7 linked regions of the Homo sapiens genome follow. The protein of the gene in region 1 purifies or fractionates together with the protein of each later gene. This does not show direct contact. Each region holds a gene or a part of one and is shown in the gene's direction. Other genes may lie near its edges. The genes, in order: CCT6A, TUBB4A, KDM4B, GNB1, PDCL3, TLE2 and THOC3.

Region 1 (3,500 bases):
GAGCTCAGTGAACTGTTAAATCTTAGGACTAATCCAGTTTCAGAAGCTGCTTTCTTAATGTTTCCCTGCTTTCTGTAACTTTTTTTTTTCTTAATAGAGAAGTGAATTCTGGCTTTTTTTACAAGAGTGCAGAAGAGAGAGAAAAACTCGTGAAAGCTGAAAGAAAATTCATTGAAGATAGGGTTAAAAAAATAATAGAACTGAAAAGGAAAGTCTGTGGCGATTCAGATAAAGGATTTGTTGTTATTAATCAAAAGGTGAGAATGAAAACTCAATGTATAAACTAAATAGTACGTATCATCCTTTTTACTTTTAAGGTGAAAGATGTTGAAATTAATTTTTATTTTTGTTACAGGGAATTGACCCCTTTTCCTTAGATGCTCTTTCAAAAGAAGGCATAGTTGCTCTGCGCAGAGCTAAAAGGAGAAATATGGAGAGGTATCCGAGTAATTTGACTTTTACTCATTTTGCAAGTGAATTGGGATTATTTCTTTTTCCTTATACTTTATTTTTGGGTTTTTCAACTGTATAGTTAATTGGCATTAACTATATTCACATTGTGCACCCCGTCAGCACTGTCCATCTCTAGGACTTTTTTCATCATCACAAACTGAAACTGTATACCCATTAAATAGTTACTCCCCATTTCTCCCTCCCCCTTGCCCCTTGTAAACATTATTTTACTTTTTGTTTCTGAATTCAATATACTTTTTTCCAAAGAGCTCCCCACAATAAAAAGCTTTTTTTAAAAATTTTTTATTATTATTTTTTGAGACAGTCTTGCTCTTTCGTGCAGTGGCATGATCTTGGTTCATTGCGACTACCACTTCCTGGGTTCATAGGATTCTCAGCCTCCCGAGTAGTTGGGATTACGGGTGTCTGCCACCATGCCCACTGAATTGCTTTGTGTTTTTTTAGTAGAGATGGGGTTTTGCCATGTTAGCTAGGCTGGTCTCAAACTCCTGGCCTCAAGTGATCCACCCACCTCAACCTCCCAAAGTGTTGGGATTACAGGTGTGAGCCACCATGCCTGGCTAATAAAGAGCTCTTGTCCACCTTTTAGATTTCATTTGCTAACTTGGGGAGAGTGGTTTAAATGGAGGGTTAAGAGAAAAGACTAGTTTTTAGCTGGTTGATGGCAAATGGAAAGGCTTAAAGTACATTTTAAAATTTAATTTTGTGTGTAATTCTGAAAAATTCCTTCCTAAAAATTACTGGTCTTATCTTTGAAATTCACTGGTAACGTTGCTTATCCATCTCCCTTAAAATGCTATTTCAGGCTGACTCTTGCTTGTGGTGGGGTAGCCCTGAATTCTTTTGACGACCTAAGTCCTGACTGCTTGGGACATGCAGGACTTGTATATGAGTATACATTGGTAAGTGTATTTTTTTCTTAAAGGTAATAGAACCTTTTAGCTCGTGAATTATTTTTGTTTGTTTGTTTGAGGTGGGGTCTCACTCCTGCCCGGGCTGGAGTGCAGTGGTGTGATCACAGTTCACTACAGCCTCATCTTCCTGGGTTCAAGTGATCCTCCCGCCTCAGGCTTCTGAGCAGGTGGGACCACAGACGTGTGTGCTACCATGACTGGCTAATTTTTTTTTTTCTTGGTAATTTTTGTAGAAACAGGTTCATAATTGTGTTGCCCAGGCTGGTCTTAAACTCCCGGGCTCAGGCTGTCCTTCACCCTCAGCCTCCCAAAGTGCTGAGATTACAGGCATGAGCCACCGTGCCTGGTTCATGAAGTCTTTAGCAGAAAAATTAATTGAAATTCAGGATCAGATTTTTGTTTATATACATTTTGAAGGTTTATGTGTAGTAATGGGAAGCCATTGATGGGGAAAATCACATTTCTTTTATGTGATTTTTCAAAAGGAGATAATTTGCTTTAATGTGATCAAGTTTGTTCCTTATTAATATGCTACTTGTCATTCTCTGTAAGTCCCTCTTCTCTCTTCACTCTGCACAAATCCTGTTTTTGAAAATCATATTTTTTCTACACATAGGGAGAAGAGAAGTTTACCTTTATTGAGAAATGTAACAACCCTCGTTCTGTCACATTATTGATCAAAGGACCAAATAAGCACACACTCACTCAGATCAAAGATGCAGTGAGGGACGGCTTGAGGGCTGTCAAAAATGCTATTGATGATGGTAAGATCCTCACTGTATTTCAATTCTTTTATATTGTTTTGCTGGTCTGAAAGGCATGGCCGAATACTGTGTTTTTATCAGTAGTTTACACAGCCAGACACCATGCAAAAGCAGTCTTCCCTTTAGAATGACTGATGGTATGCTAAGGTTTTTCATAGCATATCATTATTAAAGGTGAATACAAATAAATGAACTAATACTGATCTGTTGAAAGCTGCCAGTGGCTAGTGAAGCCATTCTGGTTGAACCATTCTCCTATTTGGTATGTTAGTCACTTGTATTTTGTCATAGTAAATTTGTAAGAAATTAATGGCTTTCATATGTATATTTTGTTATTCATAATTAGTTCTGCAGTTTTCTTAGCATTTTTCCTTTTCCCCCATCCAACAGGCTGTGTGGTTCCAGGTGCTGGTGCCGTGGAAGTGGCAATGGCAGAAGCCCTGATTAAACATAAGCCCAGTGTAAAGGGCAGGGCACAGCTTGGAGTCCAAGCATTTGCTGATGCATTGCTCATTATTCCCAAGGTGTGCATGCTTTTAACAGTCAATCTTCCAAAAGATTCAGCTGATCAAACCTTTCTGATAATGTAGGATTTATTCATAAAGTGGATTTTGGATAAGCAAGTTTGATCAGTTTTCTTTCTGACTCTAGAACAGGTATTCCTCATCATCCAGATATATTTGGTTTCTCTGGGAAGCCTGAATAGCTGACATTGCAGATGGCAAGAGATAACCTGTAGTTTAATATTTGCAGTATTAGGGGTTATACTTGAGTACAAACTTGCTTTTTGCTTTTGTTTTAAACTGATATCATTGTTTTCTATTATATACCAGTTTTGATATATAATTTATGACTGGTGTATTGCTGCTGGGTTTGGGGTAGTTGAGAGAGTTGATCAGTAACTTGTGTCTGGTATTCTCTGAAGGGAACATAAATGTTCTGTCTTTATGCAATGAGTTTTTTTTTTTTTTTTTTTTTGAGACAGTTTTGTTCTTGTTTCCCAGGCTGGAGTGTAATGGTGCGATCTCAGCTCACTGCAGCCTCAGCCTCTCGAGTAGCTGGGATTACAGGCACCTGCCACCACACCCGGCCAGGTTTTTTTTTATTTTTAGTAGAGATGGGGTTTCACCATGTTGGCCAGGCTGGTCTCGAACTCCTGACCTCAGGTGATCCACCTTCCACGGCCTCCCAAAGTCCTGGGATTACAGGCGTGAGCCACTGCACCAGGCCGAGATTTTCTTTTTCTTTTTTCTTTTTTTTTTTTTTTTTTTTTTTTTTACTATCAGTTATTAGTTCCTGTTTTCTCAAGAATTAAATTTGTTTACTTTAGGTTCTTGCTCAGAACTCT
Region 2 (2,745 bases), on another chromosome or scaffold:
TTTTTTTTGAGACGGAGTCTCCGTTGCCCAGGCTGGAGTGCAGTGACGCAACCTCCACCTCCCAGATTCAAGCGATTCTCCTGCCTCACGAGTAGCTGGGACTACAGGCATGCATCACCACACCTAGCTAATTTTTTGTATTTTTAATAGTGACGGGGTTTCGCCATGTTGGCCAGGCTGGTCTCCTATTCCTGACCTCTCAGGTGATCTGCCTGCCTCTGCTTCCCAAAGTGCTGGGATTACAGGCATGAGCAACCGCGCCTGGTCTGAGCCCACACTTTTAATGCTCCTCCCACCCCCTGGCCACCCAGAGGCCATAGAATCTCTTGGCCCAACTGTAAGCCCTCTGGTCCTCCTGAAATCACTCACACCATTTGGCCAATCTCATTTCATCTTGATTTCACCCAGCCATTTCCCAAGGACCTATGATGGGCCACGGCCACAAAACTGCATCATTATGTTTTGAAATCTTCCAACAGATCAGAAAGGGGAAGTCACTTGTCCAAGGTCACACAGTTTGTCTTGTCAGTCCCGAGAATCTGCAGTCTAAACCACCAGGCTCGGGAGGAGGAGGGAGGGGGTGACCAGAGGTGGCTTCTCTGAGGATGTGGCATTGAGCTGAGACCTGAAGGAAGTGAGGAAAAAGTCAGGTGAATACCTGGGGGGAAAGCATTCTAAGCAGCCAAGCCACTAGTGCAAAGGCCCCAGGGCAGGACCACACCTGGAAAGCTGGAGTAACAGCTGCGGCTGAAGCAGAGTGAGGGAGGGGATGGGGCAGGTCCGGCAGGGCCTTGTGGCCTGCAGGGAGGATTTGGGCTTTGACCCCAAGGTAGGTGGGAGCCATGGAGGGCTGTAGGCAGAGGAGGGACGGGACCTGACTTACTTGCTCTCAGGTGTCCTCTCGTGGGTACTGTGGAGAGGACAGACTGGGTGATAAGGGTAGGAGCCAGGGGACCAGGACAGAGGGAATTGAACTTATCCAGGAGGGTGATGCTGGAGCTGAACTAAGGTGGAGACAGATGAGGGGTGAAAGAAAACGTTAGCTGTTCACAGTAATACCGGCCAATATTCTTTTTTTTATTCCATTTTTTTTTTTTTTGAGACAAAGTCTCACTCTGTCGCCCAGGCTGGAGTGCAGTGGCGCGATCTCGGCTCACTGCAAGCTCCACCTCCTGGGTTCACGCCATTCTCCTGCCTCAGCCTCCCGAGTAGCTGAGACTACAGGCACCCACCACCACATCCAGCTAATTTTTTCTATTTTTAGTAGAGACGGGGTTTCACCGTGTTAGCCGGGATAGTCTTGATCTCCTGACCTCGCTATCCGCCCGCCTCGGCCTCCCAAAGTGCTGGGTTTACAAGCGTGAGCCACCACGCCTGGCCAATATTCTTCTTTTTTTTTTTTTTTTTTTTTGAGACGGAGTCTTGCTGTCGCCCAGGCTGGAGTGCAGTGGCACGATCTCGGCTCACTGCAGGCTCAGCCTCCCGAGTAGCTGGGACTACAGGCGCCCGCCACCTCGCCCGGCTAATTTTTTGTATTTTCAGTAGAGACAGGGTTTCACTGTGTTAGCCAGGATGGTCTCGATCTCCTAACCTCGCAATCTGCCCGCCTCGGCCTCCCTAAGTGCTGGATTACAGGCATGAGCCACTGCGCCTGGCCAATATTCTAATACTGATTCTTTTCCTCCGGGAGCTTGCATTCCACAGTGAGCTTGCAGACAATAAACATGATTAACAAGAAAACACAGGCCAAGCATGGTGGCTCACGCCTGTAATCCCAGCACTTTAGGAGGCCATGGCAGGTGGATTGCTCCAGCTCAGGAGTTCAAGAACAGCCTGGGCAACATGTCGAAACCCCACCTCTACAAAAAAAAGATACAAAAATTAGCCAGATCTGGTAGCATAAGCCTGTAGTCCCAGCTACTCAAAAGGCTGGGGCAGGAGGATCACTTGAACCTGGGAAGTCAAGGCTGCAGTGAGCCATGATTGCACCTCTGTACTCCAGCCTGGGCAACATACCAAGACCCTGCCTGAAAATGATATTATTATTAATAATGATGTTAAATATTAATCTTTTTATTGTTATTATTTATTTGTTTTAGAGACAGGGTCTTGCTCTGTCTCCCAGGCTGCAATGGTGTGATCATAGCTCACTGCAGCCTCCAACTCCTGGGCTCAAGCAATCTCCCACCTGAGCCCCCCTAGTAACTGGTACTACAGGTGTGCCACCACCATGACTGGCTAATTTATATATATATATATATATATATATATATATATATATATATTTTTTTTTTTTTTTTTTTTTTTTTTTTTTTGTAGAGACATGGCCTCACTAGGTTGCCCAGGCTAGTCTTGAACTGCTGGGCTCAAGCAATCCTCCCACCTCTGCCTCCCAAAGTGTTAGGATTACAGGCATGAGCCACTGTGCCCAGTCTTGGTTTTTTTTTAGGCAGGGGGCGGGGGAGTGTTTTGTGTGTATGTGTGTTTTTGAGATGGAGTCTCACTCCGTCACCCAGGCTGGAATGCAGTGGCTCAATCTTGGCTACCTGCAGCCTCCTCCTCCCAGGTTCAAGCAATTCTCTTGCCTCAGCCTCCCGAGTAGCCAGGGACTACGATCGCTCACCAGCACACCTGGCTATAATTGTTATTATTTATTATTATTATTATTATTATTATTTTGAGACGGAGTCTCGCTCTGTTGCCCAGGCTGCAGTGCAGTGGCACAATGTCGGCTCACTGCAAGTT
Region 3 (3,500 bases), on another chromosome or scaffold:
GTCTCTGTTCCTGGCTTAGGATGCCGGACAGAAGAGCAGGGGCCCAGCCTGGGCTCCGTTCTCATCTGGTGGTCTTGACGACGTCTCTGGATCTCTGCCCTCTGTCCCATGCCCCACACAGGCTTCAGAGTTGGAGAGACCTGGATTCAGATCCCTCCTCTGAGGCAGTCACTTCCCCTCTCTGGGCCTTGCTTTCTTCTCTGTAAAATGGGTGTAATGGGAACACCTCCCTCCCAGGTGGTTGTGAGGATCAAAGCGGGTAAAAGGCGCTGAAGCTTGCAGGGTGCCAGGAGCTCTGAGTTCGGAGCCGGTTTATTACACAGCAAGGCCCTCTGCCCTGTCAGGGTCTCCCCACCTCTGCCCTATCCACGTTCTGGGCTGGGACATTCTGTGGCGGGGCTGTCCTGGGCACCGTAGGGTGAGTGTGAACAATATCCCTGACCACCACCCACCAGATGCTAGTAGCACCCTGTCCCCTAAGCGGTAGCAACCAAAAATGTCCCCTGGGAAGCACTGTCAACCCCGCAGTGAGAACCTTGGACTTGGCCTTCAGCCCTGCAGTAGCTCATGGTGTGCTGTGACCGTGATGGGCCTCAGCTCCCTTTCTTTCCTCCCCACTCACCCTTTAGCAGTGAGTGACTCCTATTTGCAAACTGTGTCCCGGACACACTCCTCACCTGGTTGTTCAGGTTCTCCGTGACTGTCCTTCTGCCCTTCCAGGGTGGCAGCTTCCACCTGAGAGGACAGGAGCCCCCACGGGGTCCCCTGCACGCCCTGCAATGAGGGGCAGCCCGGCATCTGTGGGGTCTTCTGGGCTGCTCTCTGGCCTCTGAGCTCCGGGTCTTCCTGGGCTGCTCTTTGGCCTCTGAGCTTTGGCAGGTCCTTGCCCAGGCTTGCTTGGCTGCCCCCAGGGGTGGCACTTCCACACCCTCCCAGTCACCATAGCCCTGACCTGTCGATTTGCCAGACAGTTTTCTTTAAGTCCATTTAAAAATGACTCACCTCTTTGATCTTGGCCTCTTCCTGAACAGTAATGTCCCCAGAGTTGTGGAACGTTAATGTGCTAGTTGCACATACTTTTATTTATTTATTTTGAGACAGAATCTCACTCTGTCACCCAGGCTGGAGTACAGTGGCTAGATCTCAGCTCACTGCAACCTCCGCCTCCCGGGTTCAAGTGATTCTCTGGCCTCAGCCTCCCGAGTAGCTGGGATTACAGGTGCCCGCCACCACACCCTGCTAACTTTTGTATTTTTAGTAGACACGGGGTTTCACCATGTTGACCAGGCTGGTCTCAAACTCCTGACCTCAAGTGATCCGCCTGCCTCGGCCTCCCAAAGTGCTGGGATTACAGGCATGAGCCACTATGCTCGGCCAAGTTGCACATACTTTTACTAATTCGCGTTCAAATGAGCTTAACCACTATATTAAAAAAAAGAAAATTTGTATCTTCCCAAATACTGAGGGGGGAGTGGATTGACGAATTGATGTTTCTTGGTTTTTGGACAAATTAATTTTCAAGCTCACTCCCTGCGTGACTGGCCTGTTCTAGGATGCTGGACTTGGTTAGATCTGGGTCCGTCTATTCCCTCCTGCTCCCTTGAGGAGCTCGGAAAATGGCCTTCCCTGTTGGGGCGGGGAACATGGGAAGTCTCTACCTCCTGCTTAGTTTTGCTGTGAACCTAAAACTGCTCTCTGAAACAAAGCATATTAAAAAAAAAAAAAAAAAAAAACTGGCTGGGTGCGGTGGCTCATGCCTGTAATCCCAGCACTTTGGGAGGCTGAGGCGGGCGGATCACCTGAGGTCAGGAGTTCGAGAACAGCCTGGCCAACATGGTGAAACCTCGTCTCTTCTAAAAATAAAAAAATTAACTGGGCGTGGCGGTGCACACCTGTAGTCCCAGCTACTTGGGAGACTGAGACAGGAGAATTGCACCGAGATCCTGCCACTGCACTCCAGCCTGGGTGACAGGGCAAGACTCCGTCTCAAAAAAATAAATAAGTGGCCGGGCGCAGTGGCTCACGCCTGTAAAGCCAGCACTTTGGGAGCCAAGGCGGGCAGATCACAAGGTCAGGAGATCGAGACCATCCTGGCTAACACCGTGAAACCCCGTCTCTACTAAAAATGCAAAAAAAATTACCCGGGCATGGTGGTGGCCGGTGCCTGTAGTCCCAGCTACTCGGGAGGCTGAGGCAGGAGAATGGTGTGAACCCGAGAGGCGGAGCTTGCAGTGAGTTGAGATCGCGCCACTGTACTCCAGCCTGGGCGACAGAGCGAGACTCCATCTCAAAAATAAATAAATAAGTAAGTAAGTAAGTAAATAAATACATAAAATAAAAAACTGGCCAGGTGTGGTGGCTCACGCCTGTAATCCCAGCACTTTGAGAGGCCGAGGCGGGAGGATCACCTGAGGTCAGGAGTTTGAGACCAGCCTGGCCAACATAGTGAAATCCCATCTCTACAAAAATACAAAAATCAGCCGGGCATGGTGGTGGGCGCCTGTAGTCCCAGCTACTCGGGATGTGGGGGCACGAGAATCTCTGGAACCTGGGAGGCAGAGGCTGCAGTGAGCCAAGATCACACCACTGCACTCCAGTCTGGGAGACAGAGCGAGACTCTGTCTCCAAAAAAAAAAAAAAGAAGGTAGTCAAAGGAGTAAAAACCAAAACAAACAAACAAACAAAAGATTTTCCCCTGCTCAGAACCTTCCGGTGACTTCCTGTTGCCCTTGGGAAAAATTCTGGGCCCTTTCGCGTGGCCCCTTCGCTCTGTCATCTGTGGCCTTGTCCTTCCTTCCTTTCCTCCCTTTCTTCCTCCTGCACCTGCTCCTTTCCTGGCACAGCCGCCTTCCCTGCCCGCCCTTCCCTGCCGCAGGACCTGTGCACTTGCTGTGCCCGCTGCCTGGTTCTCTTTCCACCCAGCCGGCTCCTTATCACTCTAGTCACTTCCCTTCCCTACTTCTCCTCCTTTGCATGTCACACGATCAGAGCTGGGTATTAGTCTGTTTGTGTATCTGTTTGTCTCATCTACTAGGGCAGGGGCTTTTTCTGGAAGGGCCGGAGAATAAATATTTTTGGCTTTGTAAGCCAGAGGTCATCTCTGTCCAGACCACTCTGCTTTGCCGTTGTAGCAAGAAAGCTCCCGTGGGCGAGTGTGCCTGTGTTTCAGTAAAACTTTATTTATGGACACAAACGTGAATTCCGTGCAATTTTTACATTATAAGACATTTTTCTTCTTTTGCTTTTTTTTTCCTCCAACGACTAAAAAATGTCAAAACCATTCTTAGACTGCAGGCTGTACAAAAACAGGTGGCGGGCAGGATTGAACCTGTGGGTTGTAGTTTGCAAATACCTGGCTAGGGTGTGAGGGCCACACTACGGAAAGCTATGGAAACCATGTCAGCCTCACGACCCCTAGAATGTACGGCAGCTCCTTAGACGTGGTGGGTGTTGAGTGGACATTCCTTGTTGAGTGAATGAATTTTTTTTTTTTTTTTTGA
Region 4 (3,500 bases), on another chromosome or scaffold:
AAAAAATATATATATATGTATATATATACCCACAAACATGCGCATTGCACTCCCGCCTGGGTGACGGATGGAGACTCTGCCTCAAAAAACAAAACAAAACACAAATAAAGCTACATGAGAGGCCAGGCACCGTGGTTCACGCCTATAATCCCAGCACTTTGGGAGGCTAAGGCGGGTGGATCACCTGAGGTCAGGAGTTTGAGACCAGCCTGCCCAATATGGTGAAACCCTGTCTCTGCCAAAAATACAAAAGTTAACTAGGCTTCATGGTGGGTGCCTGTAATCCCAGCTACTCAGGAGGCTGAGGCAGGATAATCGCTTGAACCCAGGAGGCAGAGGTTGCAGTGAGCCAAGATTGCACCACTGCACTCCAACCTGGGTGACAGAGTGAGACTCTGTCTCAAAAAAACAAACAAAAAAGAAAACTACATGCAAGGCCCACAATGATTACTTGTTATGTATGTATGTATTAATGTATCAGATGTACATTTGTAATATGTTTATCAATATATTTGTACTAAAAGGCAACTTTTTTTTTTTTTTTTTTTTTTTGAGACTGGGTCTCACTCTGTCGTCCAGGCTAGAATGCAGTGGTGCGATCCTAGCTTACTGAAGCCTTGAACTGCTGTGCTCAAGCAATCCTCCTGCCTCAGCCTCCTGAGTAGCTGGTACCACAGGTGCACATCACTGTGCCCAGCTAATTTTTAAAAAATATTTTTTGTGGGCCGGGCGCGGTGGCTCAGGCCTGTAATCCCAGCACTTTGGGAGGCTGAGGTGGGCGGATCACGAGGTCAGGAGATCGAGACCATCCTGGCTAACTCAATGAAACCCTGTCTCAACTAAAAATACAAAAAATAAGCCAGGCGCGGTGGCAGGTGCCTGTAGTCCCAGCTATTTGGGAGGCTGAGGCAGGAGAATGGCATGAACCCAGGAGGCAGAGCTTGCAGTTAGCCGAGATCCTCCAGCCTGGGTGACAGAGCGAGACTCCATCTCAAAAAATATATATATATATTTTTTTGTGGAGACAGGGTCTCCCTTTGTTGCCCATGTTGGTTTCAAACTCCTGGACTTAACCAATCCTCTTATCTCAGCCTCCCAAAGTGCTGGGGTTACAGGCATGAGCCACCACCCTCCCTCCTTTGAGTAAAATGAAGGGCATTAGGTGTTTTGATTTTTGACAGCTACTTTCAGGGTCCTGGAGCCTGTTAGCTTGCTTCCTGGCCCTTGCCTCTATGTTCTAGGTGAGTGGCACCTCAGATAATTGATTTTTGAGTAGGTAAAGGCACTACTAGGCAACGTGAACCCAGCTTTCCAACAGCTCCCTGACCCGGGACTAGGAGGCATGTCTTCTCTCACCTTCTGGAGGATCAGTGGACAGCTTACGTGTCCCTAATCCCTCTGGAAGTCAGCAGTTATTAAGCTCTCTGACCGGGAGACCTCTGTAAAGGTGATCCTCCTAATCTAGGAGGATGAGCTGCTTTAGATCAGCTCTGATACTCGACAGAAAGTCTCAGAAGGGCTGGGCAGAAATAAAGCTAGAGTGGGAACATGATACCATTACGTAGAAATAATTTTAAATGTTTAATATGTTGATGACAACCTGGATTGAGAAGTTTGCTTTAAGAATTGCAACTGAAGGCTGGGTGCGGTGGCTTACGCCTGTAATCCCAGCCGAGGCAGGCAGATTGAGCTCAGGAGTTCGAGACCAGCATGGCAAAACCCTGTCTCTACTAAAAATACAAAAAAGTAGCCAGGCATGGTGGTGCACACCTGTAATTCCAGCTAATGGGAAGGCTGACGCACGAGAATTGCTTGCATCTGGGAGGCAGAGGTTGCAGCGAGCTCCAGCCTGGGTGACAGAGTGAGACTCTCTCTCAAAAAAAAAAAAAAAAAAAAAATTGCATCTGAAAAATAATAGGATGGGAGCCTGCACTTAGTTTTTAGTTCTGTGATAAATTTTGTAATAAAGTGCAGGTGAAAAGGTTTTTATTTGTTCTTAAACTCATTGACACCTGTATCAAAACATCTAGTTTGATATTAAAAGTGTCAGAGTTATCAACAAAACTTGAGAGAGCGTTACTCCAGCTTTAGGTCAGCTTTAAGAAGCCACATATGTTCACAGCTGAAATAGTTAAAACCTGTGTTTTGAGGCGCTGTGGCTTATGTCTGTAATCCCAACACTTTGGGAGGCCAAGGTGGGCGGATCACTTGAGGCCAGGAGTTGGAGACCAGCCTGGGTAACATGGGGAAACCCCATCTCTACTAAAAATACAAAAATTAGCCAGGTGTGGTGGCACGTACCTGTAATCCCAGCTACTTGGGAGGCTGAGGCATGAGAATCACTTGAACCCAGGAGATAGAGGTTGCAGTGAGCTGAGATCACACCACTGCACTCCAGCCTGGGTGACAGAGCGAGACTCTGTCTCAAACAAACAAACAAACAAAAACAAACAAACAAAAAACCTTGCGTTTGATAGAAACTTTAAAATTAAAAATCCTTATACTATCATTTACCGTACTGACAGATATCCCTGCATCAAACAGTGGAACCTTCTTGCTCTTCCTTGAAAACAGCATTCTGTGCTACAGGGTTCCTTAGGACCTCTCATAAGCAACTGTGGTTCCCAGGAGTTACCTTTCACCCACCTTACTTGCCTGCTAAGGTGAAATTCTTTTGCTCCTTATTCATATTCTCCTTTGTAGTATGGAGCTCCTTTTCAACATGTGGATTCCGAACTGAGCACAGTTGCCAGAGCAAGGAAATAGTTATGAAAAAATTCATGGTCGGGCGCAGTGGCTCAACGCTTGTAATACCAAAACGTTGGGAGGCCGAGGTGGGCGGATCACCTGAGGGTCGGGAGTTCGAGACCAGCCTGATTAACGTGGAGAAACCCCGTCTCTACTAAAAATACAAAATTAGCTGGCTGTGGTGGCGCGTGTCTGTAATCCCAGCTACTTTGGAGGCTGAGGCAGGAAAATTGCTCAAATCTGGGAAGTGGAGGTTGCGGTGAGCCGACGCACCATTGCACTCCAGCCTGGGCAACAAAAGCAAAACTCCATCTCAAAAACAAAAAAAAGAGGCCGGGCGTGGTGGCTCCCGCCTGTAATCCCAGCACTTTGGGAGGCTGAGGTGGGCAGATCACGAGGTCAGGAGATCGAGACCATCCTGGCTAACATGGTGAGACCCTGTCTCTGCTAAAAATACAAAAAGAATTAGCTGGGCGTGATGGTGGGCGCCTGTAGTCCCAGCTACTCGGGAGACTGGGGCAGGAGAATGGCATGAACCCCGGAGGCGGAGCTTGCAGTGAGCCGAGATGGCGCCACTGCACTGCAGCCTGGGCCACGGAGCGAGACTCCGTCTCAAAAAAAAAAAAGAAAAAAAGAAAAAATTCGTGATAGTTACTGGTCTCTGCTCCCGGACCATGCGCAGTGGTGCTGTTGTTTACCAAGCAGGTGAGGAGGGAACGCCTCCTTTGGTTTCTAGGAGACCTTGATTCCAA
Region 5 (4,247 bases), on another chromosome or scaffold:
TCCTGCCTCAGCGTCTCAGGTAGCTGGGATTACAGGCGCCCACCACCACGCTTGGCTAATTTTTGTATTTTTAGTAGGGACAGGTTTTCACCATGTTGGCCAGGCTGGTCTTGAACTCCTGACCTCGTGATCTGCCCGCCACAGCCTCCCAAAGTGCTGAGATTACAGATGTGAGCCACCGCGCCCGGCTGTGTTTTTAAATTCCTTTCTACCTGTTAAACATGGAGGTATCAAAATACATACCCACACAGAACGTGAAGGAGAACCTCAGCCCAGAGGCATTCTTGCCAAGTGAAACTCTTTATCTCTTTATTGAAATAATATTTCCAACTATGCTTTACCAGAAAGACATTTTTAAACATGACTTTATATACTGTACCACTAAGATACTCATCTGGCGGCCGGGTGCGGTGGCTCATGCCTGTAATCCCAGCACTTTGGGAGGCCAAGGCGGGTGGATTGCCTGAGGTCAGGAGTTGGAAACCAGCCTGGCCAACATAGTGAAACCCTGTCTCTACTGAAAATACAAAAAATTAGCTGGGCGTGGTGGCGGGCACTTATAATTCCAGCTACTCGGAGGCTGAGGCAGGAGAATCACTTGACCTGGGAGGCAGAGGTTGCAGTGAGCCAAGATCATGCCATTGCACTCCAGCCTGGGTAACGAGCGAAACTCTATCTCAAAAAAAAAAAAAAAAAGATATTCAGCTGGGGAAAGTATAAATATACAAACATACATAAACACACACATATAGGAGATACATCAGTTACATATTCCAGTGTTCAAAGGCGTACAGCATTTCAAACTAAATACATGTTTGCATCTTATTTTGACCTTTTTTGAATGTACCATGAGGGGAGAGAGAAGTGTGCAATTGTTTTTATTTCTAAAAAAAAGTCTTGAAGTCTAGTGAACTTACATATAACGATTGCTTTGTGTAAGTGAACAGTAACATTAAACACTTATGTACGTATGTGTGGATATATAAAGATATATATATAGAGAGAGATATATATATTTTTTTAATTTTTGAGACAGGGTCTTGCTCTGTCACCCAGGCTGGAGTGCAGTAGCACTATCTTGGCTCACTCCAGCCTCAGCCTCCCGGGTTCAAGCAATTCTCGTGCCTCAGCCTCCTGAGTAGCTGGGACTACAGGCATGTGCCACCATGCCTGGCTAAGTTTTGTATTTTTAGTAGAGACGGTTTCACCGTGTTGCCTAGGCTGGTTGTGAACTCCTGACCTCAAGTGATAAGTGATCCACCTGCCTCAGCCTCCCAAAGTTCTGGGATCACAGGCCTGAGCCACCACATCTGGCTGGATATAAATTCTTGAGTCAGGAATCTGAAGTCTTGTTTTTTTTTTTTTTTAAGAAACAGGTTGAATTTATATAACATTCAACCAAAGTACCTAGAGCCGAAAATACTGGTGTTACTCATCTTCGTGGAACACTTTTTTTTTTTTTACCCAGCATGACTGAGGTATGATGACCAAAACAATTGAATATATTTAAGATATACAACATGGAGATTTAATAGAGGTACAATGTGAAATGATTACCACAATCCAAGTAATTAACCATCCATCATTTCACATAGCTGCCCTCACTGTGGTGAGAATCCTTAAGATCTACTTTCCTAGCAAATTTCAAGTATACAATACGTTATTATTCACTGTAGTTACCATGTTCTACATTAGGTCTTCAGAACTTACCATCTTATAACTGAAAGTTTGTATCCTTGGCCAACATCTCCCATTTCCACTCCTCCCCTGATAACCACCATTCTATTCTCTGTTTCATGGAACACTTTAAGTTAATAAGTAAAATTCAACTGAGCACGTTGGCTGAAGCCTGTAATCCTAGCATGTTGGGAAGCTAAGGCTGGAGGATTGCATGAGGCCAGGAGTTTGAGACCAGCCTGGGCAACATAGCGAGATCCCATGTCTACAAAAAAGAAAGTAGCCAGGTGTGGTGGTGCACACCTGTAGTCTCAGCTGCTAGGGAGATGGGCGGGAGGATCATTTGAACCCAGGAGTTCAAGGTTACAGTGAGCTATGATTGCACCCATAGCACTCTAGCCTGGGTGATGGAGTGAGAGCCTGTCTCCAAAAAAGTAGATTAAGATAAGACTTCAGTAAAATTGGTTTTCAGATTTTTTTTATTTTGAGACAGTCTCGCTGTGTCGCCCAGGCTGGAGTGCAATGGCGCGATCTCGGCTCACTGCAAGCTCCGCCTCCCACGTTCACACCATTCTCCAGCCTCAGCCTCCCGAGTAGCTGGGACTACAGGCACCTGCCACCATGCCTGGCTAATTTTTTGTATTTTTAGTAGAGACGGGGTTTCACCGTGTTAGCCAGGATGGTCTCGATCTCCAGACTTCGTGATCCGCCCACCTTGGCCTCCCAAAGTGCTGGGATTACAGGCATGTGCCACCGCGCCCGGCCTGGTTTTCAGATTTTAATCGATGTGTCCAGTTAGCAGAACTCTCTGCCTTGATGTTCCTTTAAGCGAAGCCATTTGTTGTAGAATCTCTTACGTAGTCCTTTGGTTCTGCCTGGGCTCTTCTCTGAAGTAGGCAAATACATCACTTGATTTTGCTTCACTTGGTCTCAGACCACAAGAATTTTGCTGATTTTAAGAGTGAAGTATTGGAGCTGAGTCTTCAGTTACTGATTCTTTATTATCTGGTGCTTTTTTGATTAGTTGGAACAAATGTGTAAGTTCTAGGGTATCACCATACATTTATTCTTTGACCCCAATAGATTGAGATACTGGACATGAGGCTGAAGAGTTTATTAAAATTGGATTTAATGATTAGATTGCCAGAAGGTCTGTGGAAATTATTTCCTTCAAATTTTTCATGCTGATTTCCTTCCTGGGAAATTGTAGTCATCAGAGGATAGGTTTATTCTTTGTATTTTTGAGACAGGGTCTCGCTCTGTCGTGTAGGCTGGAGTGCAGTGACATGATCATGGTTCACTGCAGCCTTGAACTCCTGGGCTCAAGCGATCCTGCCACTTCAGCCTCCCAAACAGCTGGGATTATAAGCACACACCACCACTGTACCCAGTGAATTTTTATGTTTTATTTACTTTTATTTTTATTGTTGAGACAGTCTCACTGCTGCCCAGGCTGGAGTGCAGTGGTGTGATCTTAAATGTCTGCAACCTCTACCTCCCAGGCTCAGGTGATCCTCCTGCCTCAGCCTCCCAAAGTGTTGGGATTACAGGCGTGAGCCATTGTGCTGGGCCAAATTTCGATAATTGTATTTTCTACTTAGAAAAAACTAGGTTGATGGACTTAGGGCGAGGGAACCTTTGCAGCACAGTGCCTTAGGCAATTTGCTTTTTCTTTACCATATAGAGTTGGAATGGAAACTGTCTGAATCTGGAGCAATTATGACAGACCTGGAGGAAAACCCTAAGAAGCCGATTGAAGACGTGTTGCTGTCCTCAGTGCGGCGCTCTGTCCTCATGAAGAGGGACAGCGATTCCGAGGGTGACTGAGGCTACAGCTTCTATCACATGCCGAACTTTCTTGTGACAAATTGTCTGGATTTTTTAAAAAAGGAAAAAGCAAGAATGAATCCTTGTGGTTTTTAGTTTTGTATAAATTATGTTTCAAATCTTTACATTTTGGAAATAATCATTGCTGGAGATTCTGTTAAATATTTTGGAACTCTTTTTTTTTTTAAATTATAGTATTTCCTCTAAAAAAAATTAAAACCAGCCATTTGTATGGCAAATGTCTGTTTTCCTCATTTATATTTTAAGTAAGCCATAAAACCTAGTCACTATTTTTTGACATATAACTATAAAAAGAAATACAGTTTTAAATGTGAATAAATTATACAGTGGAAAATTGCAGACTAAGCCTTATAGATACATTGTTTATTTTTATTTTATAAAGAGAGCAGTGAGATTATTAAACTACAGGAATGGTCTCTAGGACAAAAGAATGTTAGTATTGAAGAAACAGACAATTTTTGTGAAACATTCCCTTATTGAAGCAATAACTGAAAGTTTCCAGTTTACTGCCATATTTGGTTAAATGTGTTTTCTTGTTAAAATAGTTTATCTCAGACTGTTAACTAATTTTTTTTTTTTTTTGAGATGGAGCTTTTCTGTGTTGCTGAGGCTGGAGTGCAGTGGCACAATCTCAGCTCACTGCAACCTCCACCTCCCGGGTTCAAGCAATTCTCCTGCCTCAGCCTCCTGAGGAGCTGGGATTACAGACGTGCACCATCACG
Region 6 (3,500 bases), on another chromosome or scaffold:
TCCCCTGTAACTCTCTAAAGATGTAGGGGAACACAAAAGAGCTGATTCATAGGAAGCTGTGGGGCTACTGAGACCCCCAGATCATCTTCCCCACCTGCTTTTGTCCAGCCATACCCTTATATGTGCCTTTCCTCGTGTAGCTGGGTGGTTCTTCTAGCCTTTAATCTCTGGACGCCGCCGAGAGCGCGGGACACACACTTCCCAACTGAGGACTAACCATGGGGGAGCTACTGGCCAGGAGGACAGAGTGGAGGTTGATGTAGGAGGAGCTGGGCATGGAGAGATCCCCATTGAAGGTGGAGTCTAAGCTGAAGGACATGGTGAACAGGCTGGACAGAGCTGGGGGCTCCTCAGGGCTGGGCAAAGAGAGTGAATCTTCAGGCACCGTGACCCCAGATCCTGCCTCTCACTGCTTTGGGGGCAGCTGTGAGCTCCTTCTTCTGTCATTCAGGGTTTCCATGGGCTGGTCTCATGCACACCATACTCCGGGACAGCTCTGAGGCCTCTGCACATTTGTTCCCTGTGGCTGAAATGCCTTTCTCTTCTTTCTGTAATTGGCAAACTCCTATTCATCCCTCAAGACCCATCTCATTTGCCCCTCCTCCTTGAAACCTAAGAGGAGCTAACTCCTAACTCCGAAGCTCCTCTTTTTTTTTTTTTTTTTTTGAGACAGAGTTGCTGTGTTGTGATCTCAGCTCCCTGCAACCTGCGCCTCCCAGGTTCAAATGATTCTTGTGCCTCAGCCACCTGAGTAGCTGGGACTACAGGAACGCACCACCATGCTCGGCTAATTTTTGTATTTGTCGGTAGAGACAGGGTTTCACTGTGTTGTCCAGGTTGGTCTTGGATTCCTGGCCTCAAGTGATCCACCTGCCTCGGCTTCCCAGTGTGGGAATTACAGGCCTGAGCCACCGCGCTTGCCCTCCCAAGCTCTTTATGTCCAACCTGCTCTTCTCTTTCAGGAGTGCAGGTGGACACAGCTCTCCATCCCGTGGCCCCGAAGCTTAGGTGGGCTAAGAACATTTCTAGGGATCCCATGGTGAATATCTCCTAGCTCACTGGGTGTCCCCCAATGCGTCTTTACACAGAAACACTTCTGTATGGCCAGGAGAGGACATTTGAAGCCCTCCAGTCTTCTCTTCTGCAAATGTGTGGTTATTTCCACAGGCATCTTGTTAGTGAGACTCCAAGAGGTTTGGGGTGGAACAGAGCCTGATTCCTGTTTGTGCTTAAAATGAGGTGGAGGACCCTGAATCTTTTAAAAATCAAACCGAGGCCGGGTGCAGTGGCTCACGCCTGTAATCTCAGCACTTTGGGAGGCCGAGGTGGGTGGATCACTTGAGGTCAGGAGTTCGAGACCAGCCTGACCAACATGGAGAAACTCCATCTCTACCAAAAATACAAAATTAGCCAGGTGTGGTGGCACATGCTTGTAATCCAAGCTACTTGTGAGGCTGAGGCGGGAGGATCACTTGAGCATGGGAGGAGGTTGAGGCTGCAGTGGGTCATGATTGCACCACTGCACTCCAGCCTGGGCGACAGAGCAAGACCCTGTCTGTCTCAAAAAGGAACATTCCAAGCTAAGAGTGAGAAGTTCTGTCTCCTAGGCCTGGTCTGTCTTATTTTTTTTGTTTTTTGTTTCTGAGACAGAGTCTTGCTCTGTCACCCAGGCTGGAGTGCAGTGGTGCAATCTCAGGTCACTGCAACCTCCACCTCCCAAGTTCAAGCGATTCTCCTGCCTCAGCCTCCCGAGTAGCTGGGATTACAGGTGCCTGCAGCCACGCCCAGCTAATTTTTGCATTTTTAGTAGAGATGGGTTTTCGCCATGTTGGCCAGGCTGGTCATGAACTTCTGACCTCAGATGATCCGCCCGCCTCGGCCTCCCACAGTGTTGGGATTACAGGCCTGAGCCACAGAGCCCGGCCAAGGCCTGGTCTTTCATAGTCTTGCTCTGTGACCTTGAGGGGACACTGCCTCAGCTTCCATCATCTGCTTAAGGGGAGTGATTGTCCTTGCCTGGCTGTTCCCTTCTCTGTCCCTCCTCCCTCCTCTCTCCCTCCTCCCTGTGCTGTTGTGCGCTCAGAGCAGATAATGGATGTGCAGCCCTAGGGTTCTGTGTAATTCTGATTAATATTAATGATTCGACATGCAGTTGTCTGCTGTGTTCCCAGTCCTGGGCCAGCTGCCTTTCTCTAGGGGGGTGCTGAAGAGGGAGAATGTTGGACTCCACCCCCGCAACCCCTGATGGTGCTGGGCACCCCCCAATATCCAAAGGGGCTCGTAGGCTGACATGGTGGCTCACACCTGTAGTCCCAGCACTTTGGGAGGCCGAGGCGGGCAGATCACTTGAGGTTGGCAGTTTGAGACCAGCCTGGCCAATACGGTGAAACGCCGTCTTTACTAAAAATACAAAAATTACCCGGGCGTACTAGCAGGTACCTGTAATCCCAGCTACTTTGGAGGCTGAGGCAGGAGAATCCCTTGAACCTGGGAGGCAGAGGCTGCAGTGAGCTGAGACTGCAACATTGCACTCCAGCCTGGGTGACACAGTGAGACTCTGTCTCAAAAAAAAAAAAAGATTATCCAGCGTGATGGTGCATGCCTGTAGTCTCAGCTTCTGGTGCTGAGGCAGGAGGATCTCTTGAGCCCTGGAGGTCAAGGCTGCAGTGAGCCATGATTGTGCCACTGCACTCCAGCCTGGGTGACGGAGTGAGACCCTGTCTCAACACAAAACAAAGAGGGGCTCGTGACCCCATCTCTTCCCTCTTTACCCCCAGATTTTCTCCCTGGGCCACTGCCCTAACCAGGACTGGCTGGCGGTCGGAATGGAGAGTAGCAACGTGGAGATCCTGCACGTCCGCAAGCCGGAGAAATACCAGCTGCACCTCCACGAGAGCTGCGTGCTGTCCCTGAAGTTTGCCTCCTGCGGTGTGTCTTCTGGGGCGGGGTGGCACGCCCTCAAAACCCCAACAAAACCCAGGGTGCCTATTCAATCTGAATCTTAGATAAATAACAAATAATGTTATTTATATACTAAGTTTTATATACTCAAAAGCAAATCGTTAGTACAAGTATATCCCAAATGGTGTGTGGGATATACTTATACTAAAAACCAAATAATGAAGTATTTGGGATATACCTGTCCTAAAAATTACTGATGACTTATCTGAGATTCAAATTTAAGGCTGGGTGTGGTAGCTCACGCCTGTCATCCCAACACTTTGGGAGGCCAAGGCAGGCAGATCACCTGAGGTCAGGAGTTCGAGACAAGCCTGGCCAACATGGTGAAACCCTGACTCTATTAAAAGTACAAAAATTAGCCAGGCGTGGTGGTGGGCGCCTGTAATCCCAGCTACTTGGGAGGTTGAGGCAGGAGAATTGCCTGAACCCGGGAGGTGGAGGTCGCAGTGAGCCAAGATCATGCCACTGCATTCCAGCCTGGGAGACAAGAGTGAGATTCTATCTTAAAAAAAAAAAAAAAAAAAAAAAGAAAGAAAAGA
Region 7 (4,191 bases), on another chromosome or scaffold:
CTTGCCCAGGTGCTTACTTACACTGTCTCTGGAAGGCCACACAAGAAATTTAACTTTTTCAGAAGAGAAGTTTGGGGACACAGGATGGAGGGAAGCTTTTCAATCTATTCCCTTTTATACATTTTACATTTGTTACCAAGTGCACGTGTTGCCTTTTAAAAATTGGGTTTTTAAACACATTTACCACTACTACTCACCACCAAAACCTTCCCCCCTCAGCTCTTCTCCAGGGCCTTGACTGGCGCTGGCAGCTCACCACCCCTTTTTTCTCCAGCAAGAAGCCACTGGTTTAAGGGAGATATGAGAGGTGGGGTGGATACGCAGGTGGACATTTACTTTTCACTCTATATCTTTTATTTTTATATTTACAATCATGTGCATGTAATACTGTTACAGGAAAAGGGTCCCAATCCAGACCCCAGGAGTGGGTTCTTGGATCTCACTCAGGAAAGAATTCAGGGCAAGTCCGCAGTGCAAAGTGAAAGCAAGTTTATTAAGAAAGTAAAGGGAATAAAAGAATGGCCACTCCATAGACAGAGCAGCCCCGAGGGCCGCTGGTTGCGCATTTTTATGGTTTTTCCTGATGATATGCTAAACAAGTGGTGGATTATTCATGCCTCCCTTTTTTAGACCGTATAGGGTAACTTCCTGACATTGCCATGGCATTTACAAACTGTCCTGGCACTGGTGGGAGTGTAGAGGTGAGGATGACCAGAGGTCACTCTCATCGCCATTTTGGTTTTGGTGGGTTTTGGCCGGTTCCTTTACTGCAACCTGTTTTATCATCAAGGTCTTTATGACCTGTATTTTGTGCTGACCTCCTATTTCATCCTGTGATTAGAATGCCTTAACAGTCTGGGAATGCAGCCCAGTAGGTTTAAGCCTCATTTTACCCAGTTCCTATTTAAGATAGAGTTGCTCTGGTTCACACGCCTCTGCCATTACCTTTTAAAAACAAAAAATCCATTTTTATTTAAAAAAAAAAAACAAAACCTCCAGACCCCTTCTTAACACCTCTTCCCTCACTCCACACCCGCTAGCCCTTTTCATGGGACAAGCTCACCAGCTGGTCCTTCTCCAGCAAAAAGACCAGAGCTTTCTGCTCTTAAGGGAGGGGACTAGGGATTACGGAACAACCCCAGAAGAAAGGTGATGAGTTAACTGTTTAGAAGGTTAGTGTTGGTTCTTTTATTCGATTAAACAGGAATACACATATATCTACCAAAGAATAGGTAAGGGAGAAATAAGAACACTAAAAAAACTCGGAATCGTTAAGTGTGAAGCATATTTGGAGTTAAAAGAACCAAATATTACTAAGTAAGCAGACGCGGGCACGCGCTGCATACCGGGATTTGTAGTCCCTTCCGGGGCGGGGTACAGCGCGCCTGCGCAGAGGGGCCGTCGCTCTTCCGGGCGCATGCGTGCGGCAGCGGCGCCAGGACTGACTGCGCCGTGGAGGCTGCTGCAGTGTTGTGAGTTGGAAGCTGGGGAGCTCGGCATGGCGGTCCCCGCTGCAGCCATGGGGCCCTCGGCGTTGGGCCAGAGCGGCCCCGGCTCGATGGCCCCGTGGTGCTCAGTGAGCAGCGGCCCGTCGCGCTACGTGCTTGGGATGCAGGAGCTGTTCCGGGGCCACAGCAAGACGCGCGAGTTCCTGGCGCACAGCGCCAAGGTGCACTCGGTGGCCTGGAGTTGCGACGGGCGTCGCCTAGCCTCGGGGTCCTTCGACAAGACGGCCAGCGTCTTCTTGCTGGAGAAGGACCGGTTGGTGAGCTGCCGGGGCTCGGCTCAGGCTAGGGAGAGGGGCCGTGGTGAAGTGAGGTGCGGTAGTGGGAGAGCGAATGGGGGCGAACGGAGCCGCGGGGGTGAAAGGAGAGTGGGTTTGAGGGAAGGGGAAAGGGGGAGTGTGGAGATGAGGAGGGAGTAGGGAGAAGGTGGAGTGTGGGGGTGACGGGGTCGTGAGGGGTGAGGAGAGGAAGACTGGGGGCGTGTGAAGAGTGTGGAAGTAAGGAGGTTGGCGATGGCGGGTGAAGGTGAGGAGAGGGTGGATGGGACAGGGCTGCGATGGGAGCCTTACTGGTTTGGAGTCGAATCCTGTGCTGATAAGAAGTGGCTAGGGGCTGTGGTGGTGGTGGTGGTGGTGGTGGTGGTACGTTGGTGGTGGTACGTTGGTGGTACGTTGGTGGTAGAGTAAGGGTGGAAAACCAGGAAGGAGGAGAAGGCCAGGGAGGGCACAAAAGTAAGGGCATAGGTGTGGAAGCTGAGAAAAACAGTTCAGAAGGCCTGCGGAGAAGAGAAGGGAGAAAGGGCTTGGAGGAACTGGATTCTGAATTACCCAGATCTTTACTGGTCCCAGCATACTTTGGTTTGAATAAGCTTATAAAGTTACATGCGGAGGCAGTTACATCTATGTGAAGTCACATCTGGATTCTGTTCTTTCAGGTCAAAGAAAACAATTATCGGGGACATGGGGATAGTGTGGACCAGCTTTGTTGGCATCCAAGTAATCCTGACCTATTTGTTACGGCGTCCGGAGATAAAACCATTCGCATCTGGGATGTGAGGACTACAAAATGCATTGCCACTGTGAACACTAAAGGTGACTATTCAGAGAGAGGGCAATAGGAAGATAAGCTGTTTGGATTCATTCAACAACCATTTTCCGAATATCTTTTCTGTGCTTGGCACTCAGCTGTGTATGAGACATCCTGAGCTGAATAAGAGTTTCCAGCTCCAAGGACCTCCCCTGCGGGGAGAAGACATATATATACAAATAACATAGCAAGATATGGTTCATTTTATAATGGAGAGGTCTGCAAGGTGGATACCCAGAATAGAAATGAAAACAAAAGTCTGCCTAGGGGAGCCAGGGAAGGCCTCACCAAATTTGAGCAAACTTTTAGGGTAGCCATAGGAGTTGAGTGGTCAGGGTGCTGTGGGTGGGGAATGGGACATTTCCAGGAGGGAACGGCATGTGCAAAGGCATGGAGAATTTGGAAAATTCTGATGAGTTAGAATGGTTGAAACTTGGATGGTCTTGGTGATCTGGGAGAAAGTTGTGCAGTACATTTATAGGCTCTGTTGTAAGTATTGAGGCCGATATTGTATGGGACTCTGAGTTTTCATTGATCGTAAGATGTTCCATTAGGAAAGAAAGTTGGTAAATAACTGTGATACACCCAAAATTTTGAAATGCTTTCTGATACATTTTAAGATACAGTGTAGATACTAAAATGTGAGAAAATATGCGTTTTAGAATGGAAAAAGTTGGTGAGATTTTTAATTGATGTGTTCAGTGTGGGCCACTGGACTTTGTTGACAAGACTTATCTCTGGAGGCGGAATGGTGTGGTTTTTCCCCAAGTATACAGCTGCTGATCCATGAGTGATTCAGGTGATGCGTGGGTGAACATTAAAAACCAGTTTTGCAAATATCTTAATGTCTACTAGAAGAACTAGCACATAGAATTTATTATTCAGTTGAAGCTAAATTTATTTTATTTTTATTTATTTTATTTTATTTTTATTTTTGAGACAGGGTCTTGCCCTGTTACCCAGGATGGAGTACAGTGGCACAATATTGGCTCCCTGCAGCCTCCACCTGGGCTCAAGCCATCCTCTCACCTCAACCTCCTGAGTAGCTGGGACTACAGGCACATGCCACCATGCCTGGCTAATTTTTTGTAGAGACGGGTTTTGCCATATTGCCCAGGCTGATCTTGAACTCCTGGACTCAAGTGATCTGCCTACCTTGGCCTCCCAAAGTGCTGGAATTACAGGCTTGAGCCTCCACAGCTGGCTGCTAAATTTATTTAAGTAAACTTTTTTGAATCAATTTTAAGAAAAATCTTGAATAAAGAAAAGTATAGTGTTTAATGGATAGGACAAAAATTGTGATGTTGGCATGCGAATGGCTGGAGTTGAGAAATGCTGGTGTAAGAGAAAAGGGGGCTTTGGGGTCAAATCTGGGTTTAAAATCTTGGCTTGGCCGGGCACGGTGGCTCACGCCTGTAATCCCAGCACTTTGGGAGGCCGAGGCGGGCGGATCACGAGGTCAGGAGATCGAGACCATCCTGGCTAACACGGTGAAACCCCGTCTCTACTAAAAATACAAAAAAATTAGCCTGGTGTGGTGGCAGGCGCCTGTAGTCCCAGCTACTCGGGAGGCTGAGGCGAGAGAATGGCGTGAACCCAG

What was found.
Region 2: the proteins of CCT6A (region 1) and TUBB4A purify together in Homo sapiens (affinity purification with mass spectrometry; 2 studies listed by BioGRID and IntAct, with this or other methods). This does not show direct contact.
Region 3: the proteins of CCT6A (region 1) and KDM4B purify together in Homo sapiens (affinity purification with mass spectrometry; 3 studies listed by BioGRID and IntAct, with this or other methods). This does not show direct contact.
Region 4: the proteins of CCT6A (region 1) and GNB1 purify together in Homo sapiens (affinity purification with mass spectrometry; 2 studies listed by BioGRID and IntAct, with this or other methods). This does not show direct contact.
Region 5: the proteins of CCT6A (region 1) and PDCL3 purify together in Homo sapiens (affinity purification with mass spectrometry; 3 studies listed by BioGRID and IntAct, with this or other methods). This does not show direct contact.
Region 6: the proteins of CCT6A (region 1) and TLE2 purify together in Homo sapiens (affinity purification with mass spectrometry; 3 studies listed by BioGRID and IntAct, with this or other methods). This does not show direct contact.
Region 7: the proteins of CCT6A (region 1) and THOC3 purify together in Homo sapiens (affinity purification with mass spectrometry; 3 studies listed by BioGRID and IntAct, with this or other methods). This does not show direct contact.

Annotation. Positions count from the first base shown.
Region 1 is NC_000007.14:56,058,265-56,061,764, forward strand, and holds part of CCT6A (T-complex protein 1 subunit zeta), read left to right. Parts: intron 1-97; coding exon 98-257; intron 258-355; coding exon 356-438; intron 439-1,279; coding exon 1,280-1,376; intron 1,377-2,004; coding exon 2,005-2,152; intron 2,153-2,205; exon of another isoform or gene 2,206-2,338; intron 2,339-2,542; coding exon 2,543-2,676; intron 2,677-3,482; coding exon 3,483-3,500. UniProt on the Homo sapiens protein: Component of the chaperonin-containing T-complex (TRiC), a molecular chaperone complex that assists the folding of actin, tubulin and other proteins upon ATP hydrolysis.
Region 2 is NC_000019.10:6,496,565-6,499,309, reverse strand, and holds part of TUBB4A (tubulin beta-4A chain), read left to right. Parts: intron 1-2,745. UniProt on the Homo sapiens protein: Tubulin is the major constituent of microtubules, a cylinder consisting of laterally associated linear protofilaments composed of alpha- and beta-tubulin heterodimers.
Region 3 is NC_000019.10:4,972,113-4,975,612, forward strand, and holds part of KDM4B (lysine-specific demethylase 4B), read left to right. Parts: intron 1-3,500. UniProt on the Homo sapiens protein: Histone demethylase that specifically demethylates 'Lys-9' of histone H3, thereby playing a role in histone code. Does not demethylate histone H3 'Lys-4', H3 'Lys-27', H3 'Lys-36' nor H4 'Lys-20'.
Region 4 is NC_000001.11:1,807,588-1,811,087, reverse strand, and holds part of GNB1 (guanine nucleotide-binding protein G(I)/G(S)/G(T) subunit beta-1), read left to right. Parts: intron 1-3,500. UniProt on the Homo sapiens protein: Guanine nucleotide-binding proteins (G proteins) are involved as a modulator or transducer in various transmembrane signaling systems.
Region 5 is NC_000002.12:100,572,993-100,577,239, forward strand, and holds the end of PDCL3 (phosducin-like protein 3), read left to right. Parts: intron 1-3,361; coding exon 3,362-3,504; 3' UTR 3,505-3,747; downstream 3,748-4,247. UniProt on the Homo sapiens protein: Acts as a chaperone for the angiogenic VEGF receptor KDR/VEGFR2, increasing its abundance by inhibiting its ubiquitination and degradation.
Region 6 is NC_000019.10:3,001,781-3,005,280, reverse strand, and holds part of TLE2 (transducin-like enhancer protein 2), read left to right. Parts: intron 1-2,777; coding exon 2,778-2,928; intron 2,929-3,500.
Region 7 is NC_000005.10:175,965,516-175,969,706, reverse strand, and holds the start of THOC3 (THO complex subunit 3), read left to right. Parts: upstream 1-1,391; 5' UTR 1,392-1,498; coding exon 1,499-1,765; intron 1,766-2,439; coding exon 2,440-2,596; intron 2,597-4,191. UniProt on the Homo sapiens protein: Component of the THO subcomplex of the TREX complex which is thought to couple mRNA transcription, processing and nuclear export, and which specifically associates with spliced mRNA and not with unspliced pre-mRNA.